2 separate regions of the Homo sapiens genome follow, and region 2 is linked to region 1. The links come from fine-mapping of genetic effects on gene expression. Tissue or cell type: blood mononuclear cells. Region 1 holds a variant in brackets; the other region holds the start of a gene. All regions are shown on one strand. Distances are from middle to middle.

What was found. PIP is the estimated chance that this variant, and not a neighbour inherited with it, causes the effect.
Region 2: NEO1 starts here. The variant in region 1 is fine-mapped to the expression of NEO1 in blood mononuclear cells (TOPMed, PIP 0.98).

The regions. Positions count from the first base shown.
Region 1 is chr15:72,965,281-72,970,430 of GRCh38, reverse strand. No RefSeq gene overlaps it. Among named protein-coding and RNA genes, the nearest start is that of NEO1, 85 kb to the left of the region's middle. The variant G/A (reference allele first, on the strand shown) is at 2,865.
Region 2 is chr15:73,049,968-73,055,117 of GRCh38, reverse strand. NEO1 (neogenin 1) reads right to left here and starts at 2,655. Exons shown (of 29, transcript NM_002499.4): 1 at 2,313-2,655. The coding sequence starts at 2,442. RefSeq lists silencers at 2,336-2,715, 2,946-3,265, 3,356-3,425, 3,486-3,535.

The DNA of each region.
Region 1 (5,150 bases):
TGTCTTTTCCCTAGGAGCTATATATTTCAGGGTAACTAAATAGCCCAGTTGATGAAGGAAAGCTCTTTTACAGAAGAGTGCACGCTAATAAGTGAAGAAGGAATGATGGGATTGGAAAATCACCATTCTGCAACCCCTATGGGATGATTGATTCAGGCAAAGACCATCAGTGGTTGTAAGATCAGCTGGTGAGAGGTTAATGGTGAGCTACATATTTACAGGGCATCAACTACCGCCCCAGTTTATCTGCTAGTTCCAAGAGGAGAAAACCCTTAACTTTGCAATAAAGGGATCAGGCAAGCCATCACCATTTTAATCCAGTGATCAAGCCCAGTGTCACTGATAATAGGCCAACTTGACATGACATCCCTCCTTGTGTGATACAGTGCTAAAGTACATAGCATCATCTATGAGGTTTTCTGGATAACAAGGTTTTACCTGAATCACATCAAGACTGTAGAATTAATTTCCATCTCATGGGAAATACAGGGGAGACAGGAATTTGTTAGGCATCACCTCAGTGGTAAATCAATCAGGCAAATCAAAAAAGTGGGACATTCTACAGTACGGTCAGTTTTCTGTATCTGTGGATTCCACCAACTCTGCATCAGAAATACTAAAAATAAAAACAATAATGCAAATTAAAAAGCAATACAATAACTATTTATACAGCATTTACATTGTATTAAGTACTATAAGTAACCTGGAAATGATTTGAAGTACATATATGGGAGGATATGTGTAGGGTACATGCAAATACTACACTATTTGATATAAGGGACTTGAGCATCCTCAGATTTTGGTATCCTCAGGCATCCTGGAACTGATCACCCATGGATACTGAGGGACAGCTGTATCTTCAATAAGTCAATGTCATAGAAAGCAAAAAGGAGTGGAGGTGCTATTTTTAGATCAAAAGAGACTTAAAAGACCTAATCACCGAATGTAGTTTTGATCCTTTATTCAGTCAAGGAATAAAGCTGGCATAAGGAAATGAGCTGTAATAGGATATTTTGGGGAATTATTGAAGAACTTTGAGTACCGTGTAGGTGTTATATATTTACAAATTATTAATTTTGGATATGATATCATTATAAAGAAAATGTCCTTATTTTTTAGAGACACAGTGAAATATTTAAGGATGAAGGGTCATGATGTCTATAATTATAAACCACTTGACCAAAAAATGACAGAGATAGATGCAGAAAAACACTTTGTCACTGACCAGAGGAAAAAAATGAGAACAAGCAGATTGTCCCCTACAAATATTTGTTAAATCCCTGCCACATGCCAGGTTTACTACTGTTGGGTATACAGTAGTAAATGAGATGAACACGTGGGTCCCACCCTCCTGAAACTTAGAGGAAAAGGTTAGAACACATTTCTAATAATAACCATAACTAGCATGTATTATGCGCCAGTGTAAGAGTGCTTAAATGCATGATCTTATTTAACCCTCCCAATGGCTTCATGGAATGAGTACTCTTATGCTTCGGTGATTAAAGCTCCAGGGAGAATGTTTCTGGTCCCAAGTCACAGAGCTGGTGAGTGGCCCAACCAGGTCTTAAATCTTAGATTTGTGTGGTGGTCCTGGCTGGGCTCTTCCCTGGGTGTGTTGACAGGGGGACCGTGTGACTCCATACTGTTTCAGCATGGATTAACACGGCTTCGTTATCATTTCTCCTCTTTTCCCTTGTAATCATTGTAAAATGACGCCCAACTTGGCTGCCAGCCAAAAGGAAGTGCTGTTTATATAAAGGACATGAAAAGTAAAATAATAACGTAGTGTCACTCATCTTTAAACTCCTTGAAACTGCCTAGATTCTGCCTTAGTCTTTCCTACAGTCTACATTCTTATCTTCCTCTAGTTAAATCTGCTTTCTTCTCCATAAACAGATTTAGATAAATATAGTTAAGACTAATTATTCAATTATTTAATCCTGTGGATAGTCGTCTTTTAGCTGCTGGTATTAAACAAAATTGTTTCCTATATTGAAAAATATGCAGCTTGCAGCTACATTTTGTTCAAATGCTTCTAAGGGCTAGAACTGGACCTTGGCCTCCACTTGGCCATCACTGGTCATCAAATATTTATTGAGCATCTACTATGTGCCATGTCTGTTCTACATTTAGAACATGGTTTCTCTGGTACTTCAGGTTCCTCATGATGCTTTACAAACAAGATTTTAGGATCTGGCTTATTTGCAAACTCGGAAAGGCCTGAATACTGACCATATATTCCCTTAGGGCTGGCATTTGGTATCCACAGGGAAGTCAGGTTTTATGAGCCTGTCACCACTTCTGATGCACGGCCCAGGGCAGATAGCTTTATGGCATTGTGGTAATTAGTTCCTACAATAGAGGCCTGTCTTATCAGAGGAGCAGTGGTGGGCCCCAGGCAGCTCTGTTTGCCTGCAGAAAGCTCAGCTGTTCCCTGGGTACCTACAGCAGTGTTACAATGAGAGGAGTATGAAACGAGACCCTGGGCAGACTCTCAGCCAAGGGTGTTGGCAGTTCAGTTGGAGACAGCTGTGTAATGTCCCTGTTGCACTGGCCTGGGCTTCTATCTAAAGCCATCTTATTTGTAGTGTTTATTTTCTTCCACTTTTGCCCTTAGGCGCCCTATTGATGTTAGTGGATTTCCATATCAGAGAGGGACTTGAGGAGCTCAAAGAGGTTAATCAACTTGTTCCTTGTTGTGGGGTAGAGAAGTGTGGGGTAGAACCAGAAAGGCACAGCTTAGCACTCCTGCCGCCCATTAGAATCTGTCTTAGTTGCAGCCAGAGAACTTACAAGTTCCCATGTGTCATTAAAGGAAATACACTGTGGGACCTGTGCAGGCTTTGGCATGTGTGAAATTTCAC[G/A]CCTCACAGATAGCGCTTCTGTCTGTGTCCAGGCTGCTTTCTTGCATGTTAGGTTTTTTTGAAAGTGTGAGTTATTCTATACCAAGAACTTCATCATAAATTACTTAATTTTTTTTCCAGGAAAACATTCCCTCCATTTTGTTAATTACCTAGCTAGTCACAGAAGCAATTCCTGGGGTTTTTTCAAAAAATACATTTTTCTCCTTGGTTACAAAAGTATTACATGTTTATTGTTAAAAAAAAAAAAGTCAGAAAAGCATAGGGAAAAAAATTTAAACGTCCTATAATTCTATCACTCTGACATAACTACTGTTAACATTTTGTGGAATGTGCTTTTAGTCTTTTCTCGATACATATATAATTTTTAAACAAAATTGGGATCATACTACTTCCTATAATTTGTGCAGTTTGTATTCTGTTTTATTTACAGAGAACATCAATTTGTAAGCATGCTCTTGTACTAGAAAAGAGTTTTCAAAAATGTTATTTTTTAAATAGCTGCATAATGTTTCAGCAAGTGAATTAATCATAATCTATTTAACCAAGCTCTATTTGAATATTTAGTTGTTTCCAGCATTTTGCTATCATAACATATACTTTGTTGAGCATCCTCGATATGAATTTTTGCCCTACCCAGGATTATTTTCTTAGAATAAATTTCTAGTGCTGGAATTCCTGAATGAAAGGGAGCGAACTCTTAACAGCTCTTTATCTTCCAGAAGGCTTGGCCAAGTCTCCCGTCTGTCAGAAATGTCTGAACGTTCATTTGGTGGCATTGGGCCATTTTACGAATATTTTTAAAAGCTCTCCCAATTTGATAGGCAAAAAATGGTATCTTAGTCTTATTTTAAGATTATTTAATCATTGATAAATTTGATTATGGTATGCCTTATTATACCATAAGTTTTGGATGGGAAAACAATCCTTGCAAATTTGGTTCTGTTTTATGGTTAGGATTTCTTCTAAGGTTTGACTATTCAGAAGTTCCCTGTTATGAAAATAAGAAACTTGTTCAGTAGCTATTGCTTACAAAGCATTAATTGTGGAGGGGTTTTTGTTGTTGCTAATTATCATAGATATGGTTAATTTTATTCAGCGACAGTTTTCATAGGTAAGGAAAATGTCCACAATATTTTTGCCAAGACTATTATGGTTTGGTTTTGAAAAAACTCCCCTCGAAGTCTCCATGGCCTATTTCGTTTCCTGTGTCTCAAATACAGCTTTCACTAACCTTCCACATACAGTCTTCTCCTATTTTTGGAATTAAATTTAAATCAACAATCTAGATCTACCTGCTACTTTGCACTCCACCAAAACAGAGCGAGACCCGGGTCTTGACTTATAGAAGCTTACAATTGAGTCAGATGGCTACATGTATAACCAGATGACGATGCCTGTAGTGCTAAACATTGTCATAGGATGTAAAATGCTGGAAGGCTACTGAAGAGTGGCAGTTATACCAAGCATGAGGATTTGGGATGGTTTCTTGTATTGAGTTTTGGAAGAGAAGACAGATTTTCCCAGAATGAATAAAAAAAATTTCCAGTCCCACATGACCTTATAGAAACTTTCCACTTACCCATCTAAAGGTAGAGCCTATATCCCCACCCCTTGACCCTGAGTGAGCTTTTATGACTGCCTCTCTGAAGAGTAGAATGTGGCAGAAGTAATGCTGCCTGACTTCTGAGGCTAGGTCATAAAAGGAGATACAGCTTCCTCCTTGCGGTAGCTCACTTGTGACATGTGTTTGGAGCCTCCATGTGAGAAGTCTGGCTACCCTGACTTCCTGAGCCACCATGCTGGAGAAACAGAAGAGAGGAAGAGAGATCGAGATTATTTCAGCCGTAAGAACTTGACTGGTGATAGTTACTTGAGACATTCTGAGCAAGAAGCACCCTACTAAGGCCAGTCAACCCTCAAAACCATGAAAGTTTACTATAAAATAATTGTTGTTTAAAGCCACTAAGTTTTAGGGTTGTCATCCAACAATGCATACCTGCAGCAGCAGGTATGAGAAGAAAGGGCATTCCAGGCAGAGGGGACAGCCTGATAATTTTTCCTTTGCAGCTTTCATTCTGTTTTATGTTTAAGTGTTCTCTCTATGTAGATGATGTCTGTAGCTATAACTGTGATCTTCCTCTCTCTCAAATTGATGCCCAGTATTCCTCTTTGCTTCCTAGAATGCTATGTCTGGAGATCCTACTCAAACTCAGTAGATCACAAAATGAGCTCAAAATGATCCCCTAGGCCGGGCATGGTGGCTCACACCTGTAATCTCAGCATTTT
Region 2 (5,150 bases), 85 kb before region 1:
TCCTCCCTTGCTGACCATTTTCTATCACCAGTCCTTTACTTCTTACTTTTTCCTCCACCTCCGTATGTCTATAACCTCAGATGGAAAAACACTTTCCATTTATCCTATTGTCCCACATCTCTATTTTTCTCCACCTTCTACTACTGAACATGTCCACTTCCCTACAATCTATTCACTATAATCCCCTATAAAAAGATTTATAAGTCTATCACTCTACAAAAATAAAAAAAATAAAACTACTGACAAAGGACATCTGATTTGCGGACAGCTTGTTCCAGTTGCTGCTTACTCAGTTCTCCAGTCTCTTGATCTCTTCCGCAGTTTTATGGCAGAACTGACCAACCCCTCCTTATTGCAGTTATTCCTCTCGCTTTTGTAATGAAGCAGAGCGGTTTACAGGAAGGACTCTGGACCGAGAATCAGGAGATCTATGTTCTAGACCCAATTAAACGACTAATTACCTGTGAGCCTCCCCACCTCCACTCCTACCCACTCCTCAGATCTCAGTTCTTGTGAGACACTCTTAACACCCAGACTAGGTTATGTCACTCCAGTACCCACTTTGTGAAAACCTATTCTCCTTTGTAGTGCTTATCACAATTACTTAATTATATAATCAGTAGATGGATGGCTATCTTTCCTACCCACACACCAGACTGTAAACTCCATGAAGGCAGAGAGCATATGCCTTGCACCTCATCTGTGCAAAATAAAAACCTGTCAATTGAGTTAATGTTGAAACAGATGTTAAGACCACTTCCTGAGACTGCTTGCATTATTTTTATTATCCTAAGTAATAAAATTACTAGCATTTTAGTTACTTACAAAATTATCGGCAAAACTTTAAACAAAAACTTGAAATTTGGTGAACTACATATGAATTTCCATATAAAATAGATCATGAGTAACAGGAACTTGTTTTCCAAAATAGTTATATTTCTCTTGCTCATCTAAGAGACAGTTGGATCAGTAACCTGCATTTCAGCACCAAAATGTGTTCTAAACCATATACGGACTGAATGTATAAGGGTACATCATGACATAAGTGATGTTTAATTTGACATTAAAACACTATTGTTTACGTAGCTGTTTAGAGAATACCGAGTGGTACTTTACGTTTAAAGCTGTTCTTTAACATTGGCAAAAGCCATGAGCTACATACACACTCTGCAAGGAAATGAAAAGTTTATCAGTCAAGTTACCTTGCAGTGTGATTTTAAATATTATTTCATATAAATCAGGGAAAAACAAGTACTGGTTCAGCGGTAAGACTGCTTTCAAATGTAAAAATATCATATCTCACACGAGTGAAAGTTTTGTCAAGTTTTATGGTACACCACCTTGGTCAAATAATTTTAACAGATTACATGCTAATTTGCCTTTCAACTGCTGAGTGTATCCTGCTCAACAATACCGTAAGGTCCTTCCCGGAAGGCTTGGCATTTTTGTTCGTTGGTCCCCTTAATAGGAATGCAGGTGGTTTCAGTAATCTATAATATTCCAAAAAAGAACTGAAAATGGCTTTTGAGGTTCAATGTTTATACAATGCCATCTGAAAACATTGTACAAGTACCTAAAATCTGATGCTTAGACAATTCCCTTGGTTAAGAGTGGTTAATAGGCTGTAAATATAGTTGTAATCCCCAGGAAAGAAGAGGCATTTCATAACGGAAACACTAACAGATACGATCACTCCGAGCCGCTCTCCAAGGCGTCCTCATCGTTAAATCAACACCAGGGGTTGTGAGCGGGCAATTGTGCCCCTCTGACACCCCCGCTCTTCCGCAGACTCGGGCTCCAATCCCCGCGCGAGGAGTCCCTCGAGACTAGCCAGCTCTTCCTCGAGACTTCGGAAGCTGGGAAATCCCTGGCCAGGGAACCAGGAGCTCAAGCCCCCTCCCCTTTCCTTTCCTGAAAATTAATGAATTGGCCGTCTGATTGTTTATTTAATGAGGTGTGTAGTGGCCTCTACTGGTGCTAGTGTGAGCACAAGAATGTCCCACTCTTACAAGTGGGATGAGCCTGGGGGAGGGGAGAGAGGCGAGGGGTGAACCTGCCTCCAGGTACAAAGCTGGGAACTAGACCCCTGCGCCCCCGACCTGCCCCCCGGCAGCCGCCCCTTCCCCGGTGGCGCCCCCTCTCGCCCTTCTCCTCCCCACCACGCGCGATCCCCTTTCTCTTCGGCAACCGGAGCCGAGGCAGAGAAGTTCCTGCACGTTTCCTCCTGGATCCTAAACAAAAACACCGCAGCCGCGGCCGCCTGAGCCGGTGCCGCGCCCCCGCGAACCCCCGGGCCCGCGCCCGCCGCTTACCTGGGGACTGCGGCGCGGAGCCGCTCCTGGCGGCCGCGGCGCCCGGCGCCCGGCGCCCGAGCAGCAGCAGGCAGTAGAGCCAGAAGGAGGGGGTGCTGAGGAGTCGCCGGGCTCCCCGCTCCGCCGCCATCTCTTCCCCGAGAGTGAGCGGCAGCGGCGGCGACAGCGCCGCGGAGCCCTTGCCTCCTTCCCTCCCGCGCGCCTCAGCCGGTCCCTCGCTGCAAGCTCGGCTCCCGCGGCCGCCGCTGCTCCAGCCCAGCCCGGCCCGGCCCGGCCCGCGCAGCCCCTCTCGCTGGAGGGGAGACTCCAGGGCGCCTCCCTCCTGCAAGGGGGCGGGGAGGGGAGGAGAGCGAAGAAGGGGAGTCAGTACATTCCGGGGCGGGGGGGGGGGGGCGGTGGGTCGGTCTCCAGGTTCCAGGCGCCGCCACCCGCCGCCGACTCCGGCTCCACACACCAGCGCGAGGGGGGCGGAGACCGCGGACGGCGGGGGCGGGGGCGGGGGCGGGGGGCGGGAGTCCCGGGCGCGCACACGCGCACGCGCGCGCCTCGCCCGCACCCCCTCGGCTCCGCGCGCGGCCCGCCCCCGCTCCAATCCCGGCTGCCGCCTCTCGGGCCGTGGCGGGCCCGCTCCCCTCCCCCTTCTCCCCGGAGCCGCTGACGGGTGCGGGGCGCGCGCGCCGGGCGCTGCTGCTGGCGTCAGGGAAACCCCGGAGAAGCGGATCCTCCTGCTCCTCCCGCCCGCTCGCCGCAGCCCCTCGGCTCCGCGCGCCCCCGCCTCCTCCTCCTCGCCTCGGGGACAAATTCCCCCCTCACCTCCCCAGATGCCTCTGGCTGCAGAGACCTGAGGGCGAGAGGCGCTCCGAGCTCAGGCTGGTCCGGGAGGCCGGCGTGGGCGCGCACCTCTGCACAGTCCGGGCCTGGAGCCTCTATATAGGGCCTCAGAGGAAACCGAAAGGCCTCCGGGAGGAAACCTGGGTGCGCAGTGGGTCGGCCCGGGGATTTATGTGCTCGCCAAAAACAATAGCGATCCCGCCCGACTCTTGCTGGGCCCTGGCGCGGCTCCCGTGGGAGGGGGCCGGCCGCGCAGCCGCTGACCTCCGGCTCCCAAGCCGGGCCGCCGTCGCCGCGCGCTTCCCCCGGGCAGCGCCGGGACCCGCCCGAACCGCGCCCCCACCCGCATCGCTCGGCCCGGGTCCAGGGAACTAGGCACAGACAAAGGTGCCCGCTGTCCACTTCCTCAGCTCGTGCGGGGGCCCCGACCGAGCCCTGGGACTCCCCGGGGCCAGTCTTCTCGCAGTAACTGCTACGTTTTACCTGTACCTTTGCGGGACACTTGGCGTTTTCCTACCTGGGAATCACGTCTTTCGCTGATAAACCAAGGAGCAAGTGGGATATGATTTTAAACCACTTAGTAATCGTGAGGCAGCACCCAGGCTACACAAAGTTAGGAGAAAGCAGTTTGTAGTTCCACTGCTGATGAGACTATTGATCATTTTATATACTGCACCCATGAAAAATTTTTAAAGAAAATTTATTTGTATGATTATGCAAGCAGAGTCACGTTTGGTGGTTGATAGGCGTTGGGTTTTATTCACTCTTCTGTGTAGTCGATAACCGAAATGTCTTGCTTCCCACAAGAAAATGGCTATTTCACTAACATATCCCTCTGTGCTTTCTCATAGTTACTTTCCAAAGATATTTTATTCTAAAGCGCCAAAATGAACAATGTAAGACATGGATTAACGTCGGGAGGGAAGAGCTCAGAATCTTCATAAAACCTTAAATCATCAAAACGGTGAAATTAGGAATTCTCATGCTAGTTCTTTGAAACAATTGACTTAATAGAGGAAACACATGCTTATGGTTTTTCACTAGGGAAACCATTTAAATACCTTTTTGTTTTGGTTAGAGTTGTTAACCAGCAAAAATATTTCCTAAATACCCGTGATTGACCTGTTAAATTAGAAATAGATTACCTCCCAATTACTTCACAAGTATTTGCTTAATTAACCTTTAATAATCACATCATTATTCAGTTTTCTGAGATAATTAATGAGAAAAGCTCTTTGAAAACTGTAAATTGCCTTGCAAATGTTAATTTCCTGATATCTTTTCTAAGTCTGGAAAAATTTCATTATATTAAACCTATAACGTGTAATATGACTTCTGAGATGAAGCTTACATTTATCTCCAAGTTTTGAAAAATACATGAGTTGTGGCTAATAACAGACTGATTTTCATATATGACTTATATGAACTGTCTCACTAATTTATCAGCCCACTGTGTATATCAGGTTAATATCAAAAAGTTTAAAACAGTTGTATATTTCTGGCTTCTGATTAAATCACAATTTTAATAAAACCCACTCTATTAAACCACTAGTAGATGGAGCCCCAGATTAAAGCTACAGATCCTAAATCAGTTCAAGATAGTTAAGTAACTCAGGCACACACTTGAATTCAGCTCCTTTACTTTGTTTCAAAGTCACTGACACTGTCGACATGCCCTTTAAAAATCATCATTGAGTAATTAACCTGTTCTTTGTTTAGTAAAGCATATCTGAGAAAAGATTTTCTTAGGCATCTCTTTTATCATTCTTATTCTCCCAACAAGATTTTCAACAAATACTTCAGCCTGCACGTATACTGCTAATCAACACTTTTATGTTGTCTAAACTATCAATCTATGAAGAGATATTAAACCACTGGTGAAATTAACAGTTTTTTCATCTAAGTAAAGTTAGAACATGAGGCCCATGTTCAAGGAATAAGTGCACAAAGAAACTTTAGAGCAAAGAAAACAGAGTGGCCATTGTGTGTCTGTAAAAGTTATCGAAA